Regions from separate parts of the Homo sapiens genome. Here all the other regions are reported to be linked to region 1. Evidence: microRNA targets listed by miRTarBase, many of them from high-throughput screens and not tested one by one. Region 1 holds a microRNA gene; each other region holds the end of a gene's coding sequence.
Evidence for each region. Region 1 holds the annotated microRNA hsa-miR-6127 (UGAGGGAGUGGGUGGGAGG, at 2,712-2,730, shown strand). A microRNA usually pairs through its seed, bases 2 to 8, with sites in the 3' UTR of a target mRNA and lowers its output. Matches are read on the target gene's strand: a 7mer-m8 pairs with bases 2 to 8, a 7mer-A1 pairs with bases 2 to 7 and ends in A, and an 8mer does both.

Region 1 (7,428 bases):
TGCCAACATTTAAAAAAACAGCAAGTCTAGGTGCTTTGGCTCACGCCTGTAATCCCAGCATTTTGGGAGGTCAAGGCAGGCGGATCACTTGAGGTCAGGAGTTCGAGACCAGCCTGGCCAACATGGTGAAACTCCATCTCTACTAAAAATTTAAAAAATAGCCAGGTGTGGTAGCATGCACCTGTGTAGTCCCAGCTATTTGGGAGGCTGAGCTGGGAGGATTGCTAGAGCCCAGGAGGTTGAGGCTGCAGTGAGCTTTGATCTTACCACTGCACTCCTGCCTGGGAGACAGAACAAGACCCCATCTCAAAAAAAAAAAAAAAAAAAAGAGATGGCAATGGCGGGCCGTCTGGAATGGCTGCTGTCATCACACTGGCTGCAGCAGGGAGGCACGGCCAGGGCTGCATGCTCCATGTAGCCAGTGGGAGCTGGGGACAGTGGGAACCCCGCCCTCCTGGGAACCACTGCAGCTGCCAAACCACAGCTGATCCTGCTTCATGGAGCAGGTGGGGGCCCCCGCCATCCCCCATGCAGCTGCAGCTGCCTAAACTGCAGCTGTGGACCCAGGCATCCCTGCAATCTTGGGGGCCCGGGAAGGCCCCCCGCCCCACCCTTCAGGCTCAGAAGTGTCTGCTCCCACTGCCTGGCTTCTCCCTCCTCTTGGCGCCCACTCTGATCTTAGAGCAAAGTTGGTGCTGAGCCTGGGTGCTGTCGCAGCCTGGCTGGGTGTGGGCATGCTTGGGGCAGTGCTGACACACTAGACCCCTGCTGCCTTGGCCCCCTCTGGACTTTGGGCACTGACTAGCATGGAAGGAAAGCCAAGGGGAAACTGAGGGCAGCTCGGCACTGGCCTGCAGACGCTCCTTGGCATGAACAGCCTGGGCACCATGAACAGCAGCAGGAGACAGACAGGCTCCTGGGTGGAAGGGGATGGGTCCCTGGTGAGGCCCTACCTTCAAGCCAGGGAGGGCCTCAAGGCTGGGGGCCAGGCTGCCAGTCCCACACACCAGAGTGGGAACTTATGGTGTATTTTCTGGGCTTGCCTATAGCCACCCATGGACCAATCAGTATGCACTTCCTCCTCTCTGAGGCTCATGAAAGCTTCAGGCTCAGCCAGAGCTGGGCAGACATTGGATGACCAGCTGCCGAGAGGAGCTACCCGCTCCAGGGCCTCCTCTCTGCTGAGAGCTGCAGAGATGGCAGAACAACTTGCCTGCAGAAAGGAGCTTCCCATTCCAGGGTCTTCCCTCTTCTGAGAGCTGGAAAGTCGACAGGATGACCTGCCTGCAGAGAGGAGCTTCCCATTCCAGGGTCTCCTCTCTGCTAGCAGCTGAACACTCATCAGGACACCCTGGCTGTGGAAAGGAGCTGCCCCCTGAGGGAGGCTCTGCAGGAGGCTGAGCTGTTCTATCGCTCAGTAAAGCTCCTCTTCGTCTTGCTCACTCCCCACTTGTCTGCATACCTCATTCTTCCTGGTTGCAGGATAAGAACTTGGGACCCATCAAATGGTGGGGCTGAAAGAGCTGTAACACAAACAAGGCTGAAACATGCCCCTTGCTTGCCATGATGCAGGTGAAGGGAAGGAAAGAAGAGCTGCGGCCCTCTGGGGAACCCAGACCTGGGAGCTCCCCAAGCTGGAGCTGTGACTCCCTTTTCGGGGCCCTGTGGTTCCTGGCATCTCGAAGCTTCTGGGTGCCACCGTGTTCCCCGGTGCCAGCTGTGGAAGCTGCTTGTGGTGTACTTGGTCTAGCCACAACCTCTCAGAGAGCTGGCGCCCATGCTGGCACCTGGAGCTGCTCACCCCGCTGCAGCAGCCGGCATGTCTGACTGTGTGCAGTGGCCAGACCCCATGTTCACTCACACACCCTTCACTGTTCCATGCCTGACTTGCCCTGGGCAGATGTGGAACCCAGGCTGGTAATGTGAGCTGAGTGCTGCCTGCCAGGAGGAGTGAGTGAAACAAGCCCAGTGGGCCTGAGCAAAACTTGGGCAAAGGTGCCACCAGCCACAGAGGTTTCCGGCCAGAAAATGACACCCCAAAGATCCTGTAACACCATCTCAAAAAAAAACAAAAAACAAAACCCAGCAACAAAAGCCTGTGAATTCTACCATCTAGAGACAATTGCTGCTAGTGTTTGAACAGATCATCTAGCCTTACTCACCTTAACTGATGGGATGCTCATTACCTGTCAGCACGGCACACTGCATCATTGTCAGCTTGGACCCTGAGAATGCTTTTCTTTAGATAGAGAGGCTCTGTCTCTCCCAGACTGGAGACCAATGTGTTCAGGCCTGGGCTGACCACATCTGTCTGCTTCTTCTCATGAGCATGTTTTTGTTTGTTTGTTTGTTTTCTGAAAATTTTGCCAGAGGCAGGAGGAGGAAAAGAGGAGGAGGAGGGAGGAGATAAGGGAAGGCTGTTGAAGTGGGCAGATGAAGGATGGTCTAGAGCCAGGGTTTTTGAGCTTTGGGGACTTCTTTTTCATTTGCAATCTTGTGTGGCATCTGATGTATGTCAAACAGATAAAAATGGGGATACTGGCTTGAAGGGTGGGGGCCCAGAGCTCCCCCTGACAGCCCCTCCCATGCTCCCTGGATTCAGAAAGTTCGTGGAGCTGGAATCTCATCTGCTCAGCCCATACCTAACTCACAGTGTGACCCTGGGCAAGTTATCTCATCTTTCTGAACCCCACTTTCTCCATCTACCAAGATGAGGGAGTGGGTGGGAGGTGGGAAGGCTGCCCCAAATGGCCTCTAACATCCCTTCCAGTCTCCTCCTCCTCCTCCTCCTTCTTCTTCTTTTGAGACAGAGTCTCATTTTTTTGCCCAGGTGGGAGTGTAGTGGCTGGATCTCAGCTCACTGCAACCTCTGCCTCCTGGGTTCAAGAGATTCTCCTGCCTCAGCCTTCCAAGTAGCTGGGATTACAGGCACGCATGCACCACCATGCCCAGCTAATTTTTGTATTTTTAGTAGAGACGGGGTTTTGCCATGTTGCCCAGGCTGGTCTCAAACTCCTGACCTCAGGTGATCTGTCCATCTCGGCCTCCCAAAGTGCTGGGATTACAGGCGTGAGCCACCGCGCCCAGCCCAGTATCCATCTTCTTCTTCTTCTTCTTCTTCTTTTTTTTTTTTTTTTTTTGAGACAGTCTCACTTTGTTGCCCAGGCTGGAGTGCAGTGGCTCGATCTCAGCTCACTGCAACCTCTGCCTCCTGGGTTCAAGAGATTCTCCTGCCTCAGCCTTCCAAGTAGCTGGGATTACAGGCGTGTGTGCACCACCACGCCCGGCTAATTTTTGTATTTTTAGTAGGGACGGGGTTTTGCCATGTTGCCCAGGCTGGTCTCAAACCCCTGACCTCAGGTGATCTGCCCATCTCGGCCTCCCAAAGTGCTAGGATTACAGGTGTGAGCCACCGCGCCCGGCCCAGTATCCATCTTCTTTGACTGCATTGCGTCAGCCCTGCTTGCCTGCCAGAGGAGTTAGAAACATGACATGCCCGAGGCAGAAACGCCAGCCCTGCGTGCCCTATTTTACTCTGAAGACACAAAGGACCAGAGACAAAAAAAGACTTGCCCGGGTCACACAGACAGGGGCAAGAGTTGGCAAGAGGAAAAATCAGATACTGTGAAAAGCTTCTCAAAGTCTAGTTTTCAAAATATTGAATACCCAGTTCCTATAGAAATACAGTGTGGGAATGTGTCAGTGTCCTCTTGTAGGTTGTTAATGGAGGAACCAGCTGGGTGACAAAGCTAGTTCAATGGATATGGAAAAAAATATATATGTATACCTATATATGGAGACAGAGAGAGTCAGTTAAAACAACAAGAATTCTGGAATATTCATAAAATTGCTAAATTAGATACAAAACTGGTTAGTGTTCTATAGGGCAATAAAATCATCATGTTGGGGCTATCTTCTCTATTGAAAAGAAATCATTTGCATCTCTACTAGACAAAAATAATTTGCAACTTAACAGTTTTCTACCAGTTAACAGCTATCTTTACTGAATCTGGGCTCTAATCAATAGTAAATAATAAGTCAAGCCAAGTGACATTCCCCTAGAGTGTCAGATGACCCTTAGCAGGGTTTGTTAGATACAGCTCTCATTTGACTTTGAAAGGACACCGGTTATCTATTTGCCTTATTTCCAAGTGTTGGATGATTTTACTTATCAGGCTGTTGCAAGAGTATAAACACTTCCCAAGAAATAAAAGACATCGATACTAATGCGCATATCATTAGTGTGAGAAATAAAAGGGTCAGCAATGGCCCTGTGCATGTCACAACAGGGACACCTTCAGGCGGAGAGGAAGGGCATATTCTTCCATTTCTCCAGAGCCCAGACTCCTAGACGGGAGGCAGGAGATGTGGGGAAGAGAGGAAATTCCTAGCCATGCTTGCACAGTTATGATCCATGAGGTTCAGTCTCAGAGTGGGATCAAAGGTCAAATAAATAACCAAAAAATAATTTTTAAATGACTTGAATTCTTTATGGCAGTCACATCCCATTCAAGGGTTGTGTTGCAAAATCGGCATACGAGGCAAACATTGTAAATGGTGAGTATCACCATTGTAAATGGTGGAAAAATTCTTCAAACAGCGCCACGTGAAAGACTGTATTACCGTTTCACAATAGTCTTTTGCTGTCAGTTTTGGCTCCAATAGTAGAACAGATTTCTTTTTCTTCAGTTGAGTACCAGTTGGTTAAGGTTAACCAATTCCCCCACCACTCACACACAAAGGAATTGAATCTTTGGAGACTGGAGCCACCCTTGGAGGTGAGGTGTTTAGATCATGAGGGGTTCACAGGAGCGGAGGCAGACTTGGGGACAGCAGAACTCTCCCAGCCACGGTCCCTCCAGAAATAGGCTCTTAGAAGACAGTATCCCCTGGCTGGGAGCAGTGGCTCACGCCTGTAATCCCAGCACTTTGGGAGGTCGAGGAGGGTGGATCAACTGAGGCCGGGAGTTTGAGTCCAGCCTGACAAACATGGATAAACTCTGTCTCTACTAAAAGTATAAAATTAGTTGGCCTAGTGGCACATGCCTGTAATCCCTGCTACTCGGGAGGCTGAGGCAGGAGAATTGCTTGAACCCAGGAGGTGGAGGTTGCAGTGAACCAAGATCAGGCCATTGCACTTCAGCTTGGGCGACAAGAGTGAAACTCCGTCTCAAAAAAAAAAAAAACCAATATCCCCTGCCTTACTTAAATTGTGATTCTCTCTCTGAGTCCTATTAGGCGAAGTGGAGATAGGCAAGTGTGTATATAATGCGACTCTAAGGTGCTTGTATATTTCTTTTAAAAAAAATGAGGCATAATTTGCACAGAGTAAAATGTGCACATCTCAAGCACACTGCTCAGTAGCTTACACCTGCACGCACAGGCCCTCTACCACCACTCAGATCAGAGTGCAGAGTATCCATCTCCCCAGCGAGGCGGCCGTGACCCTCCAAGTCAACAGTGCTCCCCTCCACCCGCAAAGTAACCGGTGTTCTGCTCTCCCTCACCATTGGTGCCTTCTGCCTGTTCTTGAACTTCATGTCAATGGAATCATGCGGCCTGTGCTCTTTTGTGTCTGGCTTCTTTTGAAGAGCATGCCGGTGAGATGCATCTGTGTTACGTGTGTCAGTTTGCGTGGTATTGCTGAGTGCTATTCCATCGTATGCATATGCAGTATCACACTTTGTTTGTCCCTTCTGTTGGTACAGAGTTTGGGCTATGATGAATAAAGCTGCTAAGAACATTCTGGTGCAAGTCCTCTGCCCCACCCAGCCCTGTGAACAGATACACTCAATTCTCTGCTGTACATTTGAACACCAGGAAGGAGGCATAGAGTTGACACCAGTGCTCTTTGCTCTTTTCCATCCACTCCTCCAGACCTCTGTCTTCAACTTCCTGTCTCCAGCAAAAAAAAAAATCTCCCGGCCCCTCTGCCCAGAGCCACTGTTCCTCCTTCTCCCTGACTCTCCTGCTCTCTGTTCTTTATTATGGAGATTGTCTTAGTCTCGCCTTTCTTGCAAAACCCTCCTTCTGGGCCTTTTGGGGTCTATCCTTCCATTCTTTGTCCCCACCACCCAATAAGATCAGGGTTTTGTTAGCAAGTGGTTGGGGGAGGCATTTGGAATTGGGGAGGGAGCTGTTGTGTGAGAGAACTGCCATGTGTTGTCTGTGCACACTCTTTATTCTTTACTTTTCTTGGCAGATAAAAGCACTTCTTGGGATTATTTTATGAAACGCAGAGGGGATTGTAAACAACAGATCATTTGTTGCGGAGATGGAGGCAGCATGTGTTCAAATTCAGTGTGTGTCTCTCTTTGGCTGTGTGATCTTGCACGAGTAACCTCCTGTGTCTGGGGCTCTAGCACCTCACCTATAAACTGGGAATGATGACCTCAAACTATGCCAGGCTTCCAGACAGTAGTGCGGCTGGTCTCTGGCACACAGTAGGCTCTTAGCACAATGTTTTACCTCCTCCTACTCTCACCTGGCACTCAGAGGGCCGGTGCATGAAAGAAAATTTGGAAAAAAAAAAAAAAAAAAAAAAAGAAGACAGAAAAGATTTATTGGCAGGGGAGAGTGAAGAAAAATAGGAAGAAATAAAGCCCCCCAGCTGGAAGCCAACACCCTGAATGCCTGTGAGGGAGGCAGCCCAGCCCGGAGGGGAACTGGGTGGAGCTGCTCTGGAGACATTCCCCACAGGCAAATATAGCCGGAAGCCACCAGGCAGGTAAGATGTAAAAAGATTAAGAGGACTAAGAGTTTGGAAAACAAACAGATCGGGCTGTGGGAGCCAACAAGGAGGTATTACCTCCACCTTGAGAGGGCTGGGCCTGACGTCCAGGTTGCTGGGAGATGCTAGCTTCCAAGGAGCTCACATAGGCATGAGGGTCACAAGAGAGTGGCCAGGGAGAGCCTGGAGTGCAAATGATCTCCCTCATCTGCCCATCACAGGACCTGAAATTCCTCCTGTAGTCATTCTTTCCACAGGGTAAGCCTTGTCCTCTCTGGGGTGTTTTGAGGTTGATGCTTCACCGTGGTATGTTTGCAAGATGCTAATAGGCTCTTCCTTGTGAGCCCTACTGAATGCTGGACTTCCTACTGGGTGCTTAATACACGACCTCACTTCATCATCAGAATCCCCGGGGAGGTGGCATGGTGACAGTCCCTTTTACAGATGAGGTAACTGAGGTTCAGAGAGGGTAAGTGACTCACACAAGGTCACACAGCCGGTAAATTGAATAGTTATTTATTTATTTATTTATTTATATTTGGGCACGGAGTCTCTCTCTGTGGCCCAGGCTGGAGTGCAGTGGCGTGGTCTCGGCTCACTGCAACCTCTGCCTTCTGGGATCAAGTGATTCTGGTGCTTCAGCCTCCCAAGCAGCTGGGATTACAGGCTTACACCACGACACCTGGCTATTTTTTTTT
Region 2 (7,428 bases), not on the chromosome of region 1:
CTGAATTTTAGATAGAAAAGGCTCATGCTTCCTGGAGTAGGGAATTGTCTTTGCCATTTAATGTGAATGCATAAAATTAGGGGAAAAACCCAAGTGGCTAAGAGCTGTGTTATTCCTGGGAAGAACTACCAATCTAGGGCACACGTCTCTCTGAATTGTTGATTATGCGCTTTATGAAGAGATTTTTCAATCTCGTGTGCTTTACTTTGTGTGGTTTAGACCCTCTGACCTAGACTTTTATTTTTAAACTGAAAAAGTTGGTCTTGTCTATATAATTGCTGCTTTTACATAATTTATTTTCCCCTCTCAGGACAAATTCTGTCTTGCTCCATCTTACAGCTTTTCCATGTTCTCCAAGAAAGGTGTGGAACATTTTCATTAAACAGCTGTTGCTGAGGCTTCTGCTTGACCTTCTGCGTGCCCGAATGCACAGAGAGGCACCGAGGAGAGAAAGGCTTTTCTCACTCGCTCCCGATGATACCGTCTCTGGCCATTCCTGACTGAGGCAGCTCACTCTGAATGGGCACCTTTGGAGCTTTTGCCCACCACAAGGCTAGTGGGGTGTTTCTAACAACACAAGTGGGACAGCTTTTGGCAGGCTTTTCCTGAGGCCTCGGCGCTTCCATCCTGGACAGCACCACTTCCACATGGAGCTGGAATGCAAGCAGGCTGCTAATTGGCCTTAAAAATTCTTTGTTTTTTTTTGAGATGGAGTTTCACTCTTGTTGCCCAGGCTTGAGTGCAATGGCACAATCTCAGCTCAGTGCAACCTCCGCCTCCCGGGTTCAAGCGATTCTCCTGCCTCAGCCTCGTGAGTAGCTGGGATTACAGGCGTGCACCACCACGCCCAGCTAATTTTGTATTTTTAGTAGAGGCAAGGTTTCTCCATGTTGGCCAGGCTTGAACTCCGGACCTCAGGCGATCCGCCCGCCTCAGCCTCCCAAAGTACCGGGATTACAGGCGTGAGCCACTGCGCCTGGCCTAAATTTCATAACAGAACCATGACAGCAGAATCTACCTTTGCAATAAGAATGTTTCCCAGGAGTTAGAGACCAGCCCTGGGCATGATGGTAAAGACCCCAGCTAATTATACAAAAAATAATTAGCCGGGTAGGTGGAGTGCATCTGTGGACATTCGTGGTCCCAGCTACTAGGTAAGCTGAGGCGGGAGATCACAAGTCCAGGAGTTTGAGGCTGCACGTGACAGCGTAGGTGATGACAGAGCGAGACACTGTCTCTTAAAAAAAAAAAAAAAAAAGTTTCCCAGTTTGAATTTGTATTGCTGAAGCATTTTTTTGAAATGCTATATAGATGCCTGTCATGTCACAGTGGCCCAGTATCAACATTTTAAAAAGCTCACTTGGTAGCTGGGCTGGTTTCTATTCCTGAGAAATTCCAGAATGCCTCAGATAAAATTCCTTAGTATAATCCCCATTTTCCTTACCAAGGATGGTAGGCTTAGTCACTCCTTGGGAGGTGCCACAGGAAAATTCAGCAGATGTCAACAGAAAAAAAGCCTTTGCTATGAAAAGTATTCACTACCTTTCATATCTCTTGAATACTTGAAATGTTTAATTAGATGCCACCAATAGGGATCCAAGGAGTGTGGGACACGGTTGCGCTGCTTTTCTTTATAAACGTTTATTAAAATGGCTCAACGCTGCATTCAGCTTCACCTCAGCTCTTCTTGTCAGCCAGGAGCCCCGTGTCCTTGGAAACTGTAGCCAAGGTTACTTATTTCCATACTGTGCATTGTGTCAGCCCGCTTCACCCCACTGCTTGAATGGCCATTAATAAGCACTTTTCTTTTTTTGGTGGGATGTTTTGCCTTTAAAATTTTTATGGCTTAGTGTGTAATTTAATTTTTGTCTGGACATGCTTGAGATAGAAGAGGTACTGGATATATGAGGATATTTTCCATGCTTTATTTTTCCTGTGGCTACTAGTTAGCATTCCATAGGGGTTGTGAATTTTTAATTATTTGAATATTTTGTGTACATATACATATTTGAAGGGTTTTGGGGGGGTCTTATTTGTTTAAAGGTGTCTTCTGTTTGCCTATTTCAAGTGTACTTCAGCTTTGCAAAGATTATAGGGCTGTATGTTACAGAAATAGGAAATGCTGGCCCTGTACTGGGGACCACTACAAAAATTCCCTTTAGCCGGGCGTGGTGGCTCACGCCTGTAATCCCCAGCACTTTGGGAGGCCGAGCCGGGTGGATCACCCGAGGTCAGGAGTTCAAGACCAGCCTGGCCAACATGGCGAGACCCTGTCTCTACTAAAAATACAAAAATTAGCTGGGCATGGTGGCAGGTGCCTGTAATCCGAGCTACTCGGGAGGCTGAGGCAGGAGAATTGCTTGAACCAGAGAGGCGGAGGTTGCAGTGAGCCGAGATCGCGCCACTGCACTCCAGCCTGGGCAACAAGAGCGAAACTCTGTCTCAAAAATAAAAAATTCCCTTTAACACCTTCAAGGTCAAATGCCTGCCTTTGTGAACAGTTAATAAACTGACATTTTCAGACATTTGCCATTCAGAAGGGAGCATTGTAGCCTGCTGTAGACCATTCCAGCAAATGTCAGAATGCAGGGCAAGATGTGTGTCGACTATGTTTTTTATGTTTAAGTTACTTACTTATTTCTTCAGGTAAGTGTGTACCAAATAACAATACTGAAAAGCCCTCCCCTTGCCAGGCCGAGGAAATAAAGCTTAAGTGAAACAGCTCTTGGGGGAAAAATGCCACTTTACAAATACTTTTCTAACAAAATAGCATTATAATGAAGTTTTTACTTAATTCCATTATTTATATGTTGACGTGAATGTAAGTGGTTAAAAAGTATTCATGTGGGACATCTCATTACTTTGTAGCTGTGGCTTTATTAACCAGTGAATGCTGTGGCCCTTAGCGAAATGCGTTGTCTTCTGCGTGATGTGGAATTCGCGCCTGTATTTTAAAAGATGGTGTGGTTTCTCCCTTGTTTGTATTTTAATAAACAACTGCTCTAATTGATGTGTTTAGACATTATAAAGCTTTACCTTTAAAATATTTTCAGGGTCTGTTCTGAAATCACCCCTTGTTAAACTTCTCTAACCAAAATACAAGTGTAGAAGAATGTCAGGCTACTAAGCCTTTTCTTGGTCTTGTCTTTGTTGGGTTGATTTCACATAGATGCAAGTCACTAGGATGAACAGGGGCCCATGCGCTTAAGATTACAAAGGTGTTCAGCTTCCCACGTGCGAGGAACTCTTAGTTACAGCCCCGTAGTGCTGCTTGCCAGGAATTCTACAGGTAATTTTCATTAATTACCAAGAACATCTGTCACCAGGTGTCTTCTCGCCCTAGGACAATGGTTATTTGGGTGCTCTTATTCAGAAACTCCCAGACTCAAAGCTGAGCCTCCTACTAAAGCAGCCAGAGCCTCCCTGGATTTTTTTTTTTTTTTTTTTTTTTTGATCTTATAGCATTTGTTGTTTCCTCTGATTTCCCATAGAAACTATTAATAATTTTTTTCATTTTAGTTTTTCTAGAGAATAATGATGCATGTTTATAACAGTGGGCAGCCACGGGTATAAAGCAATAAAAGGTAGAATTTAGATGGGAAAAAACCATTGCCACAAACCAGGTAAAATGTGGAGTATATTTGTCTAAATATGTAGCTACTGGCCTATGTATGGCTTCCTGCCAAAACTGACCCAAAAAATCTAGAAAACTATTCCTCTGGTGAGCAAGCTACAACCTTCCTGATAAATGAAGCCAAAGAGCAGTGCCGCAGCGGGTTCCCATTGCACGGGCAGACGCCCAGGATGCCCTCCATGCAGAAGAAAGGCATGCCCTAGGACAGTGGTTACTTGGGGGCACGTGGAAAGTGCCCAGGAGTGTCCCAGGAGTGGGACAGGGGCGAGCTCATTCACCTTCTACCATGTATCTGATGATGATGAGCGGTGCTGCCCGTTTTATCAGGAGCAGTGAACTGGGTGACAGACAGTCCCAAAGTTAAACAAAGGCAGCCATTGTTTGTTTTTGTTACTTGCTTATCGCTCATACTGAGGTTTGGTTTAGGGCATTTTCGTATGTGGTAATAATAGTCAAGCAGAGGCACCTTTTATTGAAAACCAGTTTCTCTGATGGAGGACACGCTGCTTCGGGGCGCTCCACTAACCAAGAGGAAACCAAAACCAGCACCCCTGATCAGAGCGTGCACTATCAATCATCTCCCACCGGCCCAGCACCGGGGACGGTGTGTCTGCCTGTCCACCAGGATGTGACGCGCCGACAAGACTCTGCTGGGATGTGTATTTTAAGTAATGTTCCCAACTGGCACAGGAGCCACATTTCAGCAGTTAGTTAGTTAGTTACTGGAGAGCACCTTTTTCCCATCATCGACACACACACACCTTGAAATTATTAGTAAAAATTCTAATATGTTAAGCATATAGATTTATTAAAAATAATGCTAATATAATCCTGGGCACATGGATTCCAAGAGAGATTTTGCAGCAGATTTCATTATAGTTACTTAACAGCTAAATAATAAGGGTGTATTTAACTTACTTACAGAGTCACTAAATAATGGAGGGGAAAGGAAAGAGTAGGGCTAATCCAGTAGAGACTGAAGCTGGTTATCAACCTTCCCTAAGCATCTGTCTGGTCCGCAGCCTGGGGCAAAGCTTGTCTCTAAAGGGTTAATGAGGCCCCAAAGTGATTTTTGCACTGAGCTCCTCCTGCACCTACCAAGGTGCCAAAGGCATGAGATTCAGAAGAGAGCAGAACCAGTTTATTAAACTGTTCAAATTGGTAAAAATGATTAAAAGCTAAAGATTTCCATAAACACTATTCCAAAATGTTAATTTTAAAAATGTGACTAGCAATGTATGCATTCCCTTTATGTCCCCTCCCTCCCTATCTCTTAAAATAAATTTGAACACCCAGTGTAAAAAACACTTGAGGGAGAACCAGAAGTCAGCCATTTGAGAAGAGAGTGGAGAGGGAGCAGACGGCGGGGAGCAGATGCCGGCCCCGCTCGGGCTGCTGACGCAGGCTTCAGTGGCACTAAATCCCCCAGTAAGGCATCAGGTGTCGGGACTCCTTCTCATAGACGTCGGGAACTATGCCATAAGGTGTCTGTACCATTTTAACTGTCGACTTCCCAAAGAGCTGGCGCTCGTAGTCTATCAGTTGCCTCCAGAAGCCTACGTTGGGCCTGATGACAGGTCGCCGGGCTTTCACCCAGTTGTACGCCTCCAGCAGGCACACGTTGTGGAATTTCATCAGGTACGCGATACACAGCGTGGCTGAGCGGCTCACCCCTGCAGCACAGTGCACCAAGGTGGCCCCGTGCTTCCTGCTCACACTGTGGATCTTGTCAGCCACGGTGTCAAAGTACAGTCCAATGGGGGCATGCGGCATGTCAGCCAGAGGCACTTTAACATACTCAAATTGGGGCCAGTTGAAATTAGGGATCTCAATGGTAGCATTAACAATGCAGGTGATGCCACGAGCCTGGAGGAGGTGCCGATTGGAGGCCACACTGCCTCTGCCCAGGAATAGAGAGGAGGTGATTTGAGCAATGCCTCCTATGTCTCCCTCGGAAATCATCCGAGGGGCCATGAGAGTCCTTGGTAGCGTGCTGTGACCTCTGGAGCTCATGAAGACGCCAGCAGTCACACTTGCATCGTTGGCGGCAAGACCAGAGTGTTTTATTTTCCTCCACCAAGGAATCCAAAATTAGAGTCTCCTTCCTGCAAAATACAGGTATGTGTCAGTACTTTAAATGCTACTGATTCATCACAGCCTTCTGTCACATTTGTCAAATGGGAAGATTAGAGGGTTTTTTTTTAAATAATACAGTACAATCTTTCAAGGATACAGACAAATCATTTTCTATCAATTAACAGTTGGGAAAAGTCACCTAAGACACAAACATGTGAAATCAATGTAAAATTCAGCTCTCTGGTGATTGTCCAAAAAAAAAAAAAAAAAAGTGGGGTGGGGGGGGGGTGGCTGGGCATGGTGGCTCATACATGTAATCCCAGCACTTTGGGAGGCTGAGGTGGGAGGATTGCTTAAGCCCAGGAGTTCAAGACCAGAAGACCAGCCTGGGCAACACAGTGAGACCCCATCTCTACAAAAAAACTTTTTATTTTTTATTTTTTATTTTTTTTTAATTAGCTGGGTGTGGTAGTGCATGCCTGTAGTCCCAGCTACTCAGGAGACTGAGGTGGGCAGATCACTTGAGCCTGGGAGGTCGAGGCTGCAGTGAGCTGTGATTGCACCACCACCACACTGCAACCTGGGCAACAGGGAGACCCAGCTTCTAAAAAAAAAAAAAAAAAAGGAAAGGCCAGGTGAGGTAGCTCATGCCTGTAATCCCAGTACTTTGGGAGGCTGAGGCGGGTGGATCACCTGAGGTCAGGAGTTCGAGACCAGCCTGGCCAACATTGGGAAACCCTGTCTCTACTAAAAATACAAAAATTAGCTGAGCATGGTGGCGAGCACCTGTAATCCCAGCTACTCGGGAGGCTGAGGCAAGAGACACGCTTGAACCTGGGAGGCGGAGGTTGCAACTAGCTGAGATCGTGCCACTATACTCCAGCCTGGGTGACAGACTCTGTCTCAAAACAAAAACAAAAACCCAAACCAAAAACTATTTCCTATCATTTCGTGACAATGTAAACACAGTAGCATTTCCATGGAAATAATCCCAGGCAATTTGAAGGCCATGGTCTTCAAAGTTCATTCCTGTAAGTTAAATGAGCATTTTACCTGACCTGACCTTGGGTGTGGCTAAATAACTTCACCTTAATTCTGAGCTCCACGATGAAGCCCACTGGCTTTTAACGTCTGAACGTCACTATCCTCTCATTATTCCAGTGTTTGCTATTAAATGTCAATATATACATTTACATATATATTGATATATATTATATATATATTGACATTTAATAAGAGCAGAAAAGGAAGTTCTCAGTTTCCTGAGATCTTAGATACATCCGTTCCTCTCACCAAAAAAAAAAATCACAATGCTTTATCACCTGTGCCCAGTGGCAAGTGCGCCTGCCCACACACACCCAGGGGATCGTCGGGAAGCCTGCAGTGATTTCAGTCAGACAAGAGCCTCCCCGGGTTCAACAGGCAGGCAGTGGTGGGGTACTCACTTCCTCAAGAGTCCAGTGTGCGCTGCCTGGGTCCGGATCCAGAAAGTCCTAAGTGAGCAGTGCTGGTGACAGTGGATACAAATCAAATCTGCGGGAAGACAAGGAGGCAAGGACACAGCCAATCAGGAAGTTCCAAAGAATTCCTCACCGACTTTCACTACGACCTCAGGTTTGACTGAAATAGAGCCAGGAAGCGGAAGGTGCACTGAACATTCGCAGGTGTGCATTTAAAGGCTGCACCAGTAAGAAACACCGGCCTAAATCTCAGCTTTT
Region 3 (7,428 bases), not on the chromosome of region 1:
GCACATGGAGATGGAGTGTGAATTCATGAGCCCAGAGCTTTGGTATGGAGGGTTTCTGAAAGAATGCTTAGCTCAGGTTTGTGTATGAGGAATAATCTGTTGATCCCCAGGGAGCTGGCTGATAGGAGAAGGGTTGGGTCCTACATACCAGGCCCATGGTGTTTTATCTGTCCACTTGCCTGTTCTGAGCTGGACAAAATGATTAATGGAATATGAGTCGAGAACAGGCACCAATCACACCAGGGCCTGTTATCTCATTTGAGTTAGATGTGACAAGGAGTCCTGGAGAGAGAGGCTGTCCTTAAGCTCAGTTGTCCACCTCACACAGGGCTATGTGACCTTCAAGGATTTATTTGTTTACTTCTCTTAGGAGGAATGGGAGCTGCTGGATGAGGCTCAGAGACTCTTCTATTATGAAATAATGGCTTCTGTGCTTCGCATTTATAGTCTCCCTGGGTAAGGCCCCAGTATCCCATTTTTCTGGGCTGGGTCCTACTCTTCCTTTTTGCCCTAGGGGTTGCTCTTTCCTTTCCATAGCTAGAGCATGGGTACTGCTCTCTTCTCTGATTCCCTCACATAGGTCCCCTGGGTGCCTAGGCTCAGCTAGATGCATTGGCCCCTCTCTTCCCTGTGTTCCTCAACTCCTGCTGCCCTGAAGCCTTGCCAGGAAGGGTTTGGAGGTCAGGGGTCCTAAGGTGACCCAGTGAATTCTGCTTGGCCTCTCCCTGGCCAGGTGACTGTCCACACTCATGACACCTCTGGACTCCAGGCTCCACCCGCTTCCTCTAATTGTAATTTCCTTGAGTCTGCCTGTGTCCTCAATTTCAGTCATCATGGTCACCACTTGTGGGCCCACTGCACTGTTCCTGCAGGACAATTTTCTGAGGTTCATTTTGTAGCATTTGTTTTCTTGCAATTTTGCATGGGTGGGCTACTCTGGCTAGTGCTCTCAGCCTGTTTCACCTTTCCCCTATGCTTTGTATCTTCCAGATCCTCTGTGGTTGTTGAATTGTAACAAGAGAGAGAACTCTGGCTGCCTGAGAGGGCATGACTCTAGTCACAGCAGGAGGGGCTTGGACAGGCCCTGGTGAGTGGGAGCTGAGGGACGCCATAACCTCAGGGCTGGGTTCCTGTAGTTCCGGAAACCTATGTTGTGCCCATCACAAGTGCCAAGGCCAGAGGCCCTAACTTATTTCTACCTTTTTATCCCCATTCTGTACACTCTTGTCATTTCTAATCTGACTTCTGACCCAGGGCTGTCTTCTCCCATTCTCTACCAGAGGGGCTCTAGTAGAGCAATAGCTCTCTCTGCGATGCTTTCCAATATTGTACTACACTTACACTATTGTGTCATAAGATGTGTGCATATCTGTAAATAGTCCCTGAACACGTTACTTATTTTTAATCACATTTTCCTGGGCCTGTACTCACATTTCGCATAGGAGTCACCTGTCACCCACAGTCAGCCAAGGTCCTGCTAAAAGTCATTGCAGAGGATTAAGTTGGAGACCTTGTACTACACCCCATCCTCGTGTCTTTGTTTCTTGTGAGGCCATCTCCATTCTGTGACTCTTAGATTCCAGTACTGTACAGCAGCCCTTTTTTCAACCTGATCCTAGCTCTGTTCCACCAGGAAACTTAGGTACTCAGTCCTGGGTACAGCAGACACATATTTGTGATGTAGTTGCCCCACCCACCAAAGTCAGCATGTACATCAATAGTATTTTTCTGCCTTCAGGTTGTTGGCATGAAGTGAAGGATGAAGAGTCATCTTCTGAACAGAGCATTTCTATAGCAGTGTCACATGTTAATACTTCCAAGGCAGGTTTGCCCGCACAGACGGCTCTCCCTTGTGACATATGTGGCCCCATCTTGAAAGATATTTTGCACCTGGATGAACACCAGGGTACACACCATGGACTGAAACTTCACACATGTGGGGCATGTGGGAGACAATTCTGGTTCAGTGCAAACCTTCATCAGTACCAGAAGTGTTACAGTATAGAGCAACCCTTAAGAAGGGATAAAAGTGAGGCCTCAATTGTGAAGAACTGCACAGTTAGCAAAGAACCTCATCCGTCAGAGAAGCCCTTTACGTGTAAGGAGGAGCAGAAAAACTTCCAGGCTACTTTGGGTGGCTGCCAACAAAAGGCCATCCACAGTAAGAGGAAGACACACAGGAGCACTGAGAGTGGGGATGCATTTCATGGTGAACAAATGCATTACAAGTGCAGTGAATGTGGGAAAGCTTTCAGCCGCAAAGACACACTTGTCCAGCACCAGAGAATTCATAGTGGAGAGAAGCCTTATGAGTGCAGCGAATGTGGGAAAGCCTTCAGCCGCAAAGCTACACTTGTCCAGCATCAGAGAATCCATACTGGAGAAAGGCCTTATGAATGCAGCGAATGTGGAAAAACCTTCAGTCGAAAAGACAACCTTACTCAGCACAAGAGAATCCACACTGGAGAAATGCCTTATAAGTGCAATGAATGTGGGAAATATTTTAGCCATCACTCCAATCTAATTGTACACCAGAGAGTTCACAATGGAGCAAGGCCTTATAAGTGCAGTGATTGTGGGAAAGTCTTCAGACACAAATCTACACTTGTTCAGCATGAGAGTATTCACACTGGAGAAAATCCTTATGATTGCAGTGATTGTGGGAAATCCTTTGGCCACAAATACACCCTCATTAAACATCAGCGAATTCACACTGAGTCAAAGCCGTTTGAGTGCATTGAATGCGGGAAATTCTTTAGTCGAAGTTCTGACTATATTGCACACCAGAGGGTTCACACTGGTGAAAGGCCTTTTGTGTGCAGTAAATGTGGGAAAGACTTTATCAGAACCTCCCACCTTGTTCGACACCAAAGAGTTCACACTGGAGAAAGGCCATATGAGTGCAGTGAATGTGGGAAGGCCTACAGCTTAAGCTCCCACCTCAATCGGCACCAGAAAGTTCACACTGCAGGCAGGCTTTAGGAGTGCTTTGAATACAACAGGACTCATCAATCAGATGTTGAATTTCATGTATCTGAACATTGACACAAAGGAGATACCTTATGGTGCCAGGTACGTGGGAACCTTCTAGGGATATGTTGCACTTTCTGACTTGCTCAGGTTTTTTGCCAGAGTTATGTCACTGTCAATCCATGTGGCCGAAACCATCTTAACTCTACCAGCTAAGATACCCCAGCATTGGGGAAGGCAGGGTTTTGTATTGTCCAGTCCCTGGAGAAAATCATGAAATGCCTGAGTTCATTGGGGGTCCTCATTCCCTTCTGTATGACAGGTATAGGTATGGATATGACCCATTTTTAGCCAAGAGGGTCTGAGCTGTATCTGCTGGTGGCTTATACAAAAAGTTTACTTTCTTCATGGATATTCTTGGTCTCACATACTTGTAATCAAGTTTTTCCAGCCTCCAAGTCACCTGGCCTGGGAAAGTACTTGCCTCATGTTGCTCTGGTTTGTGATAATAAAGGCTTTACAGTTTAAGCCACATTTAATCTTGGGGCTTCTTCTTATGGTCTGGGGTGGATTGAAAACAGGCTCTGCCAAACTGAAGACAGCCTTTGTGCGGTGCCTCCAACTTTGCCTCAAATGGGACAGTGGGTTGAGGGAGAACAGTTCTTAGTCCAGTTTTGATGTTAACTTCCATAGCTGACAAAGCTTGTTAAGTAAGAATTAAGATCTTGTGTAGACCTGATTTGTCTGGATTTTAGAGTTATTTGAGAGCCCATATTTCACCTTGAGGAGGGTGCTGCTGCTGTGACAGCCTGCAGTGTTTTGAAACAGCATGGATTGGGTGTCTTGTTTGCAGCATGTGTCCCATGTTCCCCAACACTGTTGAGGGAAAGCTGTTCCTCAGGACCTGCTGAGTGGCCATATTCCCTGAAGGCCTGAATCTGTTTCACAGGCCACTGTTGGTAAGATCTAAAGCATCCAGTAGGGAAACAAAATTGATAAATATTGAGTGTGAGTAATTGGGATTGGGGAGATTGTGGCAAACTAGAGGGGAAGTGCCCATTGTAAAAACACATCCACAGACAGTCCAGGCACTAAGGCTGAATGGGATCAGGGTATCCAGAAATCTCAGGATCTCCAGGGCCATGTTACTGTTAGGTCAAGGTCACTGGTGCAGCAACGAATGTAGTTTTTCTAGATTCCTCTCCCTCCCTGGGCTCTTTACCTAATGTCTTTGCGGCACAGGCGGTAACCCTGGGAGTAAAGAGGTGTGGTCCAAGGAAGTAGCTTTTGTGACCAGCTGGAGTTTCTGGTGACTCTTTTGGCAATGGTCCTCATTGTTTGCCAGTTTTTCTTACTACTGAGGAAGAGATTGTCTTCCCAAGATATTTGGAGTGATAAGAGTCACCATAGTGAGGTAGAGTCACTCTTAGTGATGTCCAGTTGTCCAGTTTCCAATAGAAGTGGGAGATCCAGATTTTTAAATGGGATAACTTTTTATAGGTTCACTGAGGTGTAATCAACATGCAATATATTGCACATATTTAAAGTGTACGAGTTAAGTCTTGATACACACACACACACACACACACACACACACACACACACTTGAAACTATCACCCTATCAGTGGTATTGGACATATCTGTTACCCCCAAAGTTAACCTGAGGCCCTTAACCTTTCTCTCAGTGCTCGCCTTCCCCCAGAATCCCTAGGCAACCACTGAGTAGTTTTCACTGTAGGTAAATTTGTCTTTTCTAGAATTTTATGTAAGTCTGCCTATAAAGTGTTAATTTTGCATGCTGTCTTTCATGCAACATAATTTGAAATTTGTCCATGGTATGTATGAACAGTCCATTTTAAAATTACTGAGTCATATTCTGTATGGATATACCACAGTTTATCCATTTATCTTAATTGATGTCTGTACTCCACCCCCATTTTTAAATATTAAAAAGCTGCTGCAAATATTGATGCATGAGTCTTTATGTGGACACTTAGCTGAGAACATTTTTAAGCAGAGGTTTTGAAGGTGTGACCATATATCTTACTAATTATAGTAAAATATATTGGAAAAGAGATACATACAGGGAAGAACTGTGAAACAGAAAAGACCTAAGATTTGATGATTTGGGAAATTCTCAGCCCATCTTAATTGGAAAAAAAAAACAAACCATTGAAATTAAGAGATTCATTGTTAGGAAAGATAGATGTTTTAGAGAGAGAGATGTTTTAGAGAGATAGCCAAGGATGTTTGCTGATACCGGGATCAAAACATACATCAGAACACTGTCACACAAAAAGCTCTTTGAAGAGATTAAATGTGACTTGTAGATCCCCTCAATACAAACAATTTATAAGAAGTTTAAACTATCACTCATCTCAGCAAAAGCCAAAAATATAGATAGGGGATTCCCTAGGAGGAATAATCTGCATAAACCTCTTTTCTAATGTTGTGAATTTCAGTGATGTACAGGAGACTCACAAAATTCTTGAAAATTTTATACCAGTGGAAATGCTCACCTTGGGTCTAAAGGGACCTTGAAAGTATGAAGTTAAAGGGTGTAGGCATGTAAAGTGTGAAGTTAAAGGTTGTAATATTCTATACATGGGACTGGCTGCGGAAACAGGTGCAAGCCCTTGCTACCTTTCATGAGAAAGGAAGGATGACTCAGAGCAGAGGAGAGTCCAGTGGGCAGAGTCCTGAACCATGTGATATTCCCATGTCTTGACTCCCAGTGGCATTTGCCAAACTAGATTTCAGATTTTCTTGGGATTGGTGGTTCCATTTTTTTTGTTTTCCCCCCTTCCATTTCCTCCCCTTTTGAAACAATGCATATACATATAACTATTATCCTAGGTCTTTCCCAACCTTTTGTTTGGGAGCAGATAACTAGTTTTCTAGTTTTACAGATCCAAATGAGACAGGAATAGCACTGGGTGGTCACAGGAGGATGGAAAATCTCAACACCCTGGTTTTGGTGCAGCTGAAAAAAAAAAAGAAAAACCCAAACAACAGCTAAAACGGGAACTAGGCAAAGAAACCGTGGGATAACAGAAAACCCAAAACAAAAGAGAAAACTGCCAGAACCCCAGTCAGGGTGACATGTCTGTAACTCTTCCAGGCAAACCCAAATAAGGGAGGAGGGGTGGTAATCAGGGGTCCCTGAAATCCCCTCTTTTCCCAGAATACCTAATGATTACCCCTATTAAAGGAACACCCATACAATTAGAAACCCAAACTTTGTTTTGCATGACTTGCTCTCAGGGGCACTCCCACACTTCTCTCTTGTGTGTACTTTTGCTTCACAATAAAAGCTGCTTGCCTTTGCTTCACTGTGACTCGTCACTGAATTCTTTCAATGGTGTTAAGAACCTGGATGCTGCTGGGGCTGGGATCTCACCAACAATGTCCAGAGACCCCCCCGAACCCCCCAGCAACACAGAGAAGAATTGTGCCCCAAGATGGGATTATACCTAGAGCCTCATCCATATTGGACTTAGACAATTTAGATGAAATTGGAGACTTTAGCTCAGTGTGGAGGCGCACACCTGTAGTCCCAGCTGCTCAGGAGGCTAAGGCAGGAGAATCGCTTGAACCCAGGAGACAGAGGTGGCAGTGAGCCAAGATTGCGCCACTGCACTCTAGCCTGGGCAATAAAGCGAGACTGTCTCAAAAAAAATCATAAAATAGTAAAAGGCATCAAATTTTTGAGGGGAAATACCTATTGGTGAACTGAAAACTCGACAACAGTTCTGGTGTGTGGGATAACATGTTAATAGCCTTGATCATTTTGAATTTCATAATCATAAATGGGATTTTGTTTTTGAGATGGGGTTTCACTCTTGTTGCCCAGGCTGGAGTGCCATGGCACTATCTCAGCTCACTGCAACCTCTGCCTCCTGGGTTCAAGCGATTCTTCTGCCTCAGCCTCCTGAGTAGCTGGGATTACAGGCATGCACCACCACGCCTGGCTCATTTTGTATTTTTAGTAGAGACAGGGTTTCTCCATGTTGGTCAGGCTGGTCTTGAACTTCTGACCTCAGGTGATCCGGCTGCCTTGACCTCCCAAAGTGCCAGGATTACAGGCATGAGCCACTGTGCCTGGCCTTTTGGGATTGGTTTAAAGAGCTGTGGAAGACAATTGAGCAATTACCACAGAGATTAGCAATGGAGTTCCTAGTATATTTGAAAATGAATAAAATTGTTCCTGGGAAAATTAACAATAGTGATCTCAGTCTAAATTACAGAGTAAGCAATTCAGAGAGGATAATATGCCACATATGCATAGATTTGTTTAAAACAGTAAATTATATAGCACTGTAAAAATTGAAAAAAATACTATTAGAACAACAAACAATTAGGTTGATGAAGCACAATAAGAGACTAATGAAAAGGAAAGAAATGAAATTACTTAATATCAAAATGTATGAAATAAATTTAAGCCATATACAAGCATG
Region 4 (7,428 bases), not on the chromosome of region 1:
CTCCCCTTTGCAGCGAGATTCCCTGAGGGCCGTCCATCCTCACTGTCTTCAGTGCCTCTCCTCTCGCTCTCCTTTTAATATTTGGCACATGCAAAAGAACACATGTAACATGTGCATGTTCCTAAGGTTAATACCATGACCATGAGCCCTGCCCAGCCCCGCCAGGACAAGAACTTCCCCTGGAACTTGCTCATGGCAGTCAGTCCCTTCCCATCCCATCCCCATTTCCCCAAGAGGTGGCCGCTCCCTGGACCATAGGCTTCTGGCCATCTTGTGTTGAAGTAATCTCAGCACTAACCAGACCATAAGCTTCTGGCCGTCTTGTGTTGAAGTAATCTCAGCACTGACCGGACCATAGGCTTCTGGGCGTCTTGTGTTGAAGTAATCTCAGCACTGACCAGACCATAGGCTTCTGGGAGTCTTGTGTTGAAGTAATCTCAGCACTGACTGGACCACAGGCTTCAGGCTGTCTTGTGTTGAAGTAACCTCATCACTGATGTATGCGTGCCTACATGGTATGTTGTTTAACCTTGCTTTTGAATTTTACATGAATAATACCGTGCCGTGTGGAGACTTCTGGAACTTGTTCACCCAACATTATGTTTCTAAGATTCTTCCAGGTAGCTCTTTGCAGCTGGAGTTCATTCATGTTCACGGCCGTGTAATACTCCACTGTCACCAAGCTGCAGCGTACCTGTCATTCTGTTGAGGACGTTTCAGCTGGCAGATGTGTTGCTAGTACTGATACTGCTCTTAGGATCACTCTGCCGACCGTCTTCCAGTGCACACGGGCAGCAGTTTCTCTTGTGAGTGTATCTAGCAGAGAATTACCAAGGTATGTCCTATTCAATTGCAAGAAATGACACCAAACAATTTTCCAAAGAGGTTGTTTCAGCTTAGCTTGACTCTTCAGAATAAACATGTAAGTACTAACAATTAAGATGGTCCAACCTCTTCCATTTTGACCATGGAGTGAGTGAAATGTTGTGTTTCAGTTTCATTTTGCATATTCCTAATAACTAGTAAGACGGAGCAACTTTTGACATAGCTATGGAACCCGGGTGTTTGCTTTTCTGTGAAAAGCCCAACTTTCTACTGCTTTGTCTTTTTCTTCCTAATTTGTAGGTACTCTTTATGTGGTCTGGATATAAGTTCTTAGTTGTTCTCAGTTACCAAAATCTTCTCCCAGTGTGTGGCTTGCCTATTTTATGGCCTTTTTTAAAGAAAGAAGTTCTTAATTTAAATATATTGAGTTCATCTTCTAAACGTTCTAAAACTTGCTTTTCACACTTAAGCCCGCCTCCAGTCGGTATGTACTTTTGTGTTAGGTGTGAAACAGGGAACTTATTTCTTTCTTTTCCCACCTGGGCTGGAATTTCTGGCAGCATTTATTAAATAACAATCCCTTCCCTGCGGGTTTGCTGCCATCCGTCGCAGTTCCGCATTTGTGCAGGGCTCCCGGGCTCTCTCCCCTTAGCCGATCCGCCCCTTGCGCCGGTGTGCGGGGCTCCCGGGCTCTCTCCCCTTAGTAGATTCGCCCTTGCGCCGGTGTGCGGGGCTCCCGGGCTCTCTCCCCTTAGCCGATTAGCTCCTGCACCAGGACCACACTGCTGTGGCTGCTGTCCCAGCAATGTAAGTCAGGAATAATGGAGCAGCAATTCCCTCAACTGGATTCTCCCACAGAAAGGATTTTTGCTCTTGTTTTTGTACTTTCATGTTAATTTTTCAATCAACTTATCAAATTTTGTGGGAAAAAAATGGCATTATGTTTAGAATTATAATGAATGTATGGATGAAATTGGAGAAGGCTGACATTTTTACAATATCAATTCTTTTTGACCATGAAGATAGAAAAACTGTGGTGGCCAGAATTCCAAGATGACCCCAGTGATCCTTACCCTTACATAATCTCCTCCCGTGAATAAGTCACTCCCGGAATTGGGATATGTTAGGTGGCACACAGGACTTTTAAGGATGGGCAGTTGTCCTGGTGGGTCTGACCTAATCAGGTGAAACTGTAAACCACACAGGCTTTTCCTAGAGATTCAAAGGGTGAGTGGGAGTCAATGTGAGGCAGCTTCTTTGTTGCTGACTTTGAAGATGGAGGGGACCCTATGGCAAGGAATGTGGGTGGCCTCTAGTCCCTAAGAGCAGCCCCTGGCTGACAGCCAGCAGGAAACGGACATCAGCCCAACACCTGCAAGCAACTGCATTTGGCCAACAACCCAAGTGAGTATGGGAGCAGACTCTTCCCCGGAGCTCCCAGAAGGAACCCAGCCCACTGACACCCCAATTTCTGCTGAACGGAGGACCTACCAAGCCGTGCCTGGATGTCTGACCTGCAGCTTGGAGCTAAGAAATGAGGTTGTGATAAGCTACCAAGTATGTGGGGACTTGTTACACAGCAACAGAAAACTACATAGTCTCAATTTACTTGTATCTACAGTCATGGGCTTTAATGAAGTTTTATAGTTTTCTGTATATAGGCCTTGAATATCTTTCCTTCCATTTATTTTTAGAAACTTTAAGAATTTTTAATCTTATTTAAATATCTTTTAAAAAATGAATATAACTGAATCCTTGAATATAATTTATAAGCTTATTGCTAGTGTCTAGAAAAGCAATTGATTTCAGTATATAATCTCAGGGCAGGCCAGGTGCAGTGACTCACACCTGTAATCTCAGCACTTTGGGAGGCCAAGGTGGGAGGATCACTTGAGCCTAGGAATTCAAGAATAGCCTGGGCAACATAGAGATACTCCATCTCTACAAGAAATAAAACAATTAGCCAGACCTGGTGGCATGTGCCTGTAGTTACAGCTACTCAGGAGGCCAAGGTAGGAGGACTGCTTGAGCCCACAAGTTGGAGGCTGCAGTGAGCCATGATCACACCACTGCACTCCAGCCTGGGTAACAGAGCAAGACCCTAAAATAAATAAATGAATAAGTAATAAAGTAAAAACTTTTTAAATCTCATAGCAAACAACTGTGCTGAATTCTTTTTTTTTTTTTTTTTTTTTTTTGAGACGGAGTCTCGCTCTGTCGCCCAGGCTGGACTGCGGACTGCAGTGGCGCAATCTCGGCTCACTGCAAGCTCCGCTTCCCGGGTTCACGCCATTCTCCTGCCTCAGCCTCCCCAGTAGCTGGGACTACAGGCGCCCGCCACTGCGCCCGGCTAATTTTTTGTATTTTTAGTAGAGACGGGGTTTCACCTTGTTAGCCAGGATGGTCTCGATCTCCTGACCTCATGATCCACCCGCCTCGGCCTCCCAAAGTGCTGGGTGAATTCTTACTATTCTTAATAATTTTGGCTTTTCTATGTAGACATCATATTTGAGAATAAAGCATTACGTTTCTTCTATTGCTGTTTTTATGTACTTACATATTTATTGCATCTTAATGAGGCAGGACCCTCAGCAGCATGTAGATTTTGCTGTTGCTGATTGTAAAGGCCCTGACAGTGACAACTTCCATTTGGAAAGCTGTTTGCTGAAGGTTTTGGCAGCAGGGCGTCCACACAAGAGGGGTACACAGTGTGGGAGTCAAAGCCCCAGTCGGATGAGCAGGGCATCTCTGTGGGGAGTGGGTGGCAGTGATGGGAGGCTGGGGACATGCAGGAAAACTGACCCAATAATAGATTAAGGAGAATGAGAACCATTCCCAGAAAGGGCCTTACAGCTATGGAAAGAGAGAAAAACTGGAACGTACCCTGTGGTGCTGGGCTAAAATCGGAGGTATTAGTATCATTCCCAGCTGTGAATAGATGAGACAGAGAGAGAGATGGAAGTACGTGCACATATCCTCTAGCTCTGTCCACTAAGAGCTCCCGGGTGCAGCAATCTGCAACAGCCAGGAGCACGCCTCGCACCCACATCCTGGTTCCTGATGCTACTCTCCATTCAAAAGAACAGGTCTTCTTAGAGCTGCAGCTCACTCCAATAAATGAAAGAGAAAGGGGCAGGCAAGTATAAAATAAGGCTTGAACATCTTTTTGCACCAGAAAGTAAAGAAACAGCTAAAGAACTGTAGGTACATAACAAAAAAAACACAAAAGGCAGAAGAAGGGGCTCCCACGGGCCAAACAAGCAGGACCTGAGCCTGAGAGTAAATGTCATAACAGACCACAGCCCTGAATACAAGAAGGGACCAGGATCCACACAGGTGGGAGCAAGGAAGGAAGGAAAAAGTAAAGGCAGTTTGACAGGGATGGGATATTGGCATCGCTTCACACTACCTCCCCACTCATTCATTACAAAGGGGTCGTTCACTGGGCAGTGGAGAAGCTGACCAGGGCCACCTTCACCAAGCAACAAGAGAGAACACCAGCAGGAGGCTAACTGCATTGGGCAGCCCCTGCCAGGAGGCAGTGTCCATCCTGTGACACTCCTAGACGAAACGCAGACCCAGAACCTACCACAAGGAAACGTCACATGAACACAACCTGGGAGCCATGGGCTTATCTCCAGAAGTGCCAAGGTCGTCTAAGCCCAGGGAGACGGAGCCACCGTCCAGGCGGATTAAGTCGCCATGACCACAAAGCCACGTGCGACTCACTCCTGACATGAATGCGGGTTGGACGCCGTCCCAAAGCACAGAGGGTGCAGGGCCAGAACGGCAACCACTCAAGTGACTCAGAAGGAAGCTTCTCTTTACTGTGCTTACAACTTTTCTCCAAGTTTGCGGTGGTTTCCATATTGTTATTGTTATTGTTATTGTTATTATTCAACACGAGTAAAAAGAAACTCATGACCTTCTCCTTGGACTCGCTCCTCTCCCCAATCTCGATACCGACTGCACTGTTGTTCGGGTCGCCCCCTCCCCCACCATCCCACAGGGGCTATGGCGTGGGCTCAGCACCTCTGAAGGAAAAGCAGATGAAAGAACTTGTGCCTCCCAGGCGAGAATGCACAGTGCAGGGGCAACCCTGGCAGGGCCCATCCCTTCCTGGTCCCGCTGAGCTCGGGCACAGACCGGGCACCAGGCTCGGTGTGGAGTGTGATGGGGAGTGGTGTCCCCGGAGTTGTTTCTGGGAGTTGCTGGGTCCACCTTACCTTAAATGTAGTCAACCAAGTCCCATCCCACCACTAGATGGCACCCAAACCTCAGCAGAAAGGGGGCGTGGGTTGGCCCCTGAAGTGAGAAAACCATTGGTCAATCTGGACCTGGCGTGCTTCAGGTGACAACAAGGCTTTCCACACACTGCTCGCTCGCCCCACCTCCCCACCCCAGGCCCCCTGCCACACACCTGAAGACACAGGAAATAAGGTCACCCATTGGCTTATACATGCCTTTGAGCAAAACAGAAAAGGTGCCCCTCACTGCAGGTAGACAGCCCCCCGCCAGGATACACCTCACAGCCATGTGCCCTTGTGCAATGCACAACCCAAGCAACCTTACTCAACAACCCTACTCCAGAGAAGCAGGACTAGAACTGTGCTGAAGTGAAGAATGACAATCCCATTCTTTGCAAGACTTATTGATGAAAATAACTGGCAATCAGAACCCTAAAGAAACACACCCAGTCACACTCATACAAGCCATGAAATAATAAAACACAGTCAAGGTTCTCTCCATGTCAAACCACCAGCATCCCCACCTGAATGCCCCGGAAGTCTGACGGTTAACCTGTGCAGGCCCTGGTCAGGCCTGTGGTCCCCAAGGGCTGCCGGCAGCAAAGGCACCACGGAAGCTGCAGGGGACAGGGGAGGCCGCTGCTTCTTGCATTTTTGTCTGAAAGGTCCCTGTGGAGTCGACGAGGGAATTCTCACTGAAGCAGCTATAAAAGAAAGCGGAGGGCACGGCGCCTCCCTGAAGCACCAGCAGCTGTTCTGTAGATGGTTGTTGGGCCACACGCAAAGGACTTGGTTCCTGTCCCCAGCTTAGTGGTCCGTCAGAGGAAAGGTCTCTTCCTGCCTGGCTGGCCACAGCATGGCCGCCTCTTCCATGACGGGCACCTGTGTAGGCCAGCCTCTCTCTCCTGCCGCCCCTGCTGGGACGGCAGCCCGGACGTCACCTGCACAGCCACAGGTGCGGGTGCTGGCTCAGCCTCTCTGTGAGCTCATCCTCCCCGGGCTCCTCCAGAATATCCCTGTGGAATTGAGGAAAGATGCACACAGGGGCCTCTAAAGGAGGGAGACCCTGGCCTGCCCACAAGAACAAGGGAGCAGAGCTTAGCAACACATGCGAAGTGAGTGTCACAGGGACACAGAGACACGGGGACTCAGATGAGCCTCAGGATGGATGTAGCCACTAGAAATATCTACACGGCATTCTTAAAAGCCCAGGGGCCACGTCTTCCCACTGGCTGGCAGGACCGCAGGGCTTGGCTGCAGCAACTCGGCAGCCCCTGGTGGAAGGCACAGAGGCCCCACAGCAGGGCTGCCTCTGGGTGGTCACTTTTCTGGACTAGCAGAGGAACCATCTCAAAGCTGCCAGGAGAAGAGATGGGTGCGTTTTCCTCAGGTCCCTTGTTTACATCCAACAGGATCCAATGGACCCTGAAGGATGGTGCCTTAAATATGCCCAATCCAAGAGCAGGAGAGCAGGACAAAGGCTATGACGCCAGTGGCAGGAAGAAGAAGCCGCCCCGATCCCGGCTCTGAGCTGCTCTCCTAGAGCACAGGACCAAAGCCAGATAACCGGGCGGAGGGGGAGGACAGTCATCAGGGCCTGCCCGCCGCCTCAACCCCTCCACCCCCCAGCTCTTGGCTTCCCATCCCAGGGGGCCAGACAGAAGCGCCTTCCCCACCCACACACCTGAACAGGAGCTCCACAGTCATCTGGTAGGTGGCCTCTGGGGTCCCAGCAAGGGGCTGCAGGTGGCTGCGGGGGTCCCACTTGTGAAGGAAGTTCTGGCAAGCAGGAGGAGTGGCCAGTGAGTGTGGGCCCCGAATGAAAGCAGCCTTGCCCCATCCCCGGCCCCTCCAGGGTCAGCCACAGGGCACCCGCTGAGGGGGCTGAGCCATTCACCCTGGACACCCAGGCACAGGCCCCACGAGGCTGCTGGCTCCTCCTGGAGCCAATGTCCAAGTCCCTCCTTCAGCCCGACCTGGGGGCCTGAGAATCCCCACAGCCCAGATGTCAGGAGCACCCCCCAAGGCCCCAGCAGCCCAGATGTCAGGAGCACCCCCCAAGGCCCCAGCAGCCCAGATGTCAGGAGCACTCCCCAAGGCCCCAGCAGCCAGGGCGGGCAGCACTGAGCCCCACGGGAGGGGCTCAGCCTCACTCAGGACCCGCCTAACCCAGCACGACTCTCCCATCAAAGTTCCAGGCAGGCCCGGCCGGTGGCCTCAGGCCCATCGAGAGTGAATTAGAAACAAACGACCATGGAGAACAGCCTGGGTGGGGATCTCTGATACCTCCAGAATCAGGGCCAGAAACAGGTTGACCCAGATGACAGACGACACCAGCCACCACAATACAAAATAG

Region 2: the mRNA of DUSP14 is a reported target of hsa-miR-6127. Seed matches in the 3' UTR shown: 7mer-m8 at 4,985-4,991 and 8mer at 4,944-4,951.
Region 3: miRTarBase lists ZNF134 as a target of hsa-miR-6127. Seed matches in the 3' UTR shown: 7mer-m8 at 4,172-4,178.
Region 4: miRTarBase lists TPCN2 as a target of hsa-miR-6127. The part of its 3' UTR that is shown has no 7-base or 8-base seed match.

Annotation. Positions count from the first base shown.
Region 1 is chr1:22,628,630-22,636,057 of GRCh38, reverse strand. It overlaps MIR6127 (microRNA 6127), which reads left to right and starts at 2,692; the gene lies at 2,692-2,800.
Region 2 is chr17:37,510,492-37,517,919 of GRCh38, reverse strand. DUSP14 (dual specificity phosphatase 14) reads right to left here. Exons shown (of 3, transcript NM_007026.4): 2 at 7,156-7,243; 3 at 4,422-5,739. The coding sequence starts at 5,647. The coding sequence ends at 5,051. It overlaps SYNRG (synergin gamma), which reads left to right. Exons shown (of 22, transcript NM_007247.6): 22 at 1-3,113. Among named protein-coding and RNA genes, the nearest start is that of DUSP14, 24 kb to the right of the region's middle. RefSeq lists an enhancer at 4,750-5,263 and a silencer at 5,022-5,412.
Region 3 is chr19:57,618,422-57,625,849 of GRCh38, forward strand. It overlaps ZNF134 (zinc finger protein 134), which reads left to right. Exons shown (of 3, transcript NM_003435.5): 2 at 991-1,087; 3 at 1,739-6,303. The coding sequence starts at 1,048. The coding sequence ends at 2,982. Among named protein-coding and RNA genes, the nearest start is that of ZNF134, 7.9 kb to the left of the region's middle.
Region 4 is chr11:69,086,535-69,093,962 of GRCh38, reverse strand. It overlaps TPCN2 (two pore segment channel 2), which reads right to left. Exons shown (of 25, transcript NM_139075.4): 23 at 7,359-7,428; 24 at 6,757-6,851; 25 at 3,366-6,088. The coding sequence ends at 6,010. Among named protein-coding and RNA genes, the nearest start is that of MIR3164, 7.1 kb to the right of the region's middle. RefSeq lists a silencer at 5,071-5,210 and an enhancer at 7,377-7,428.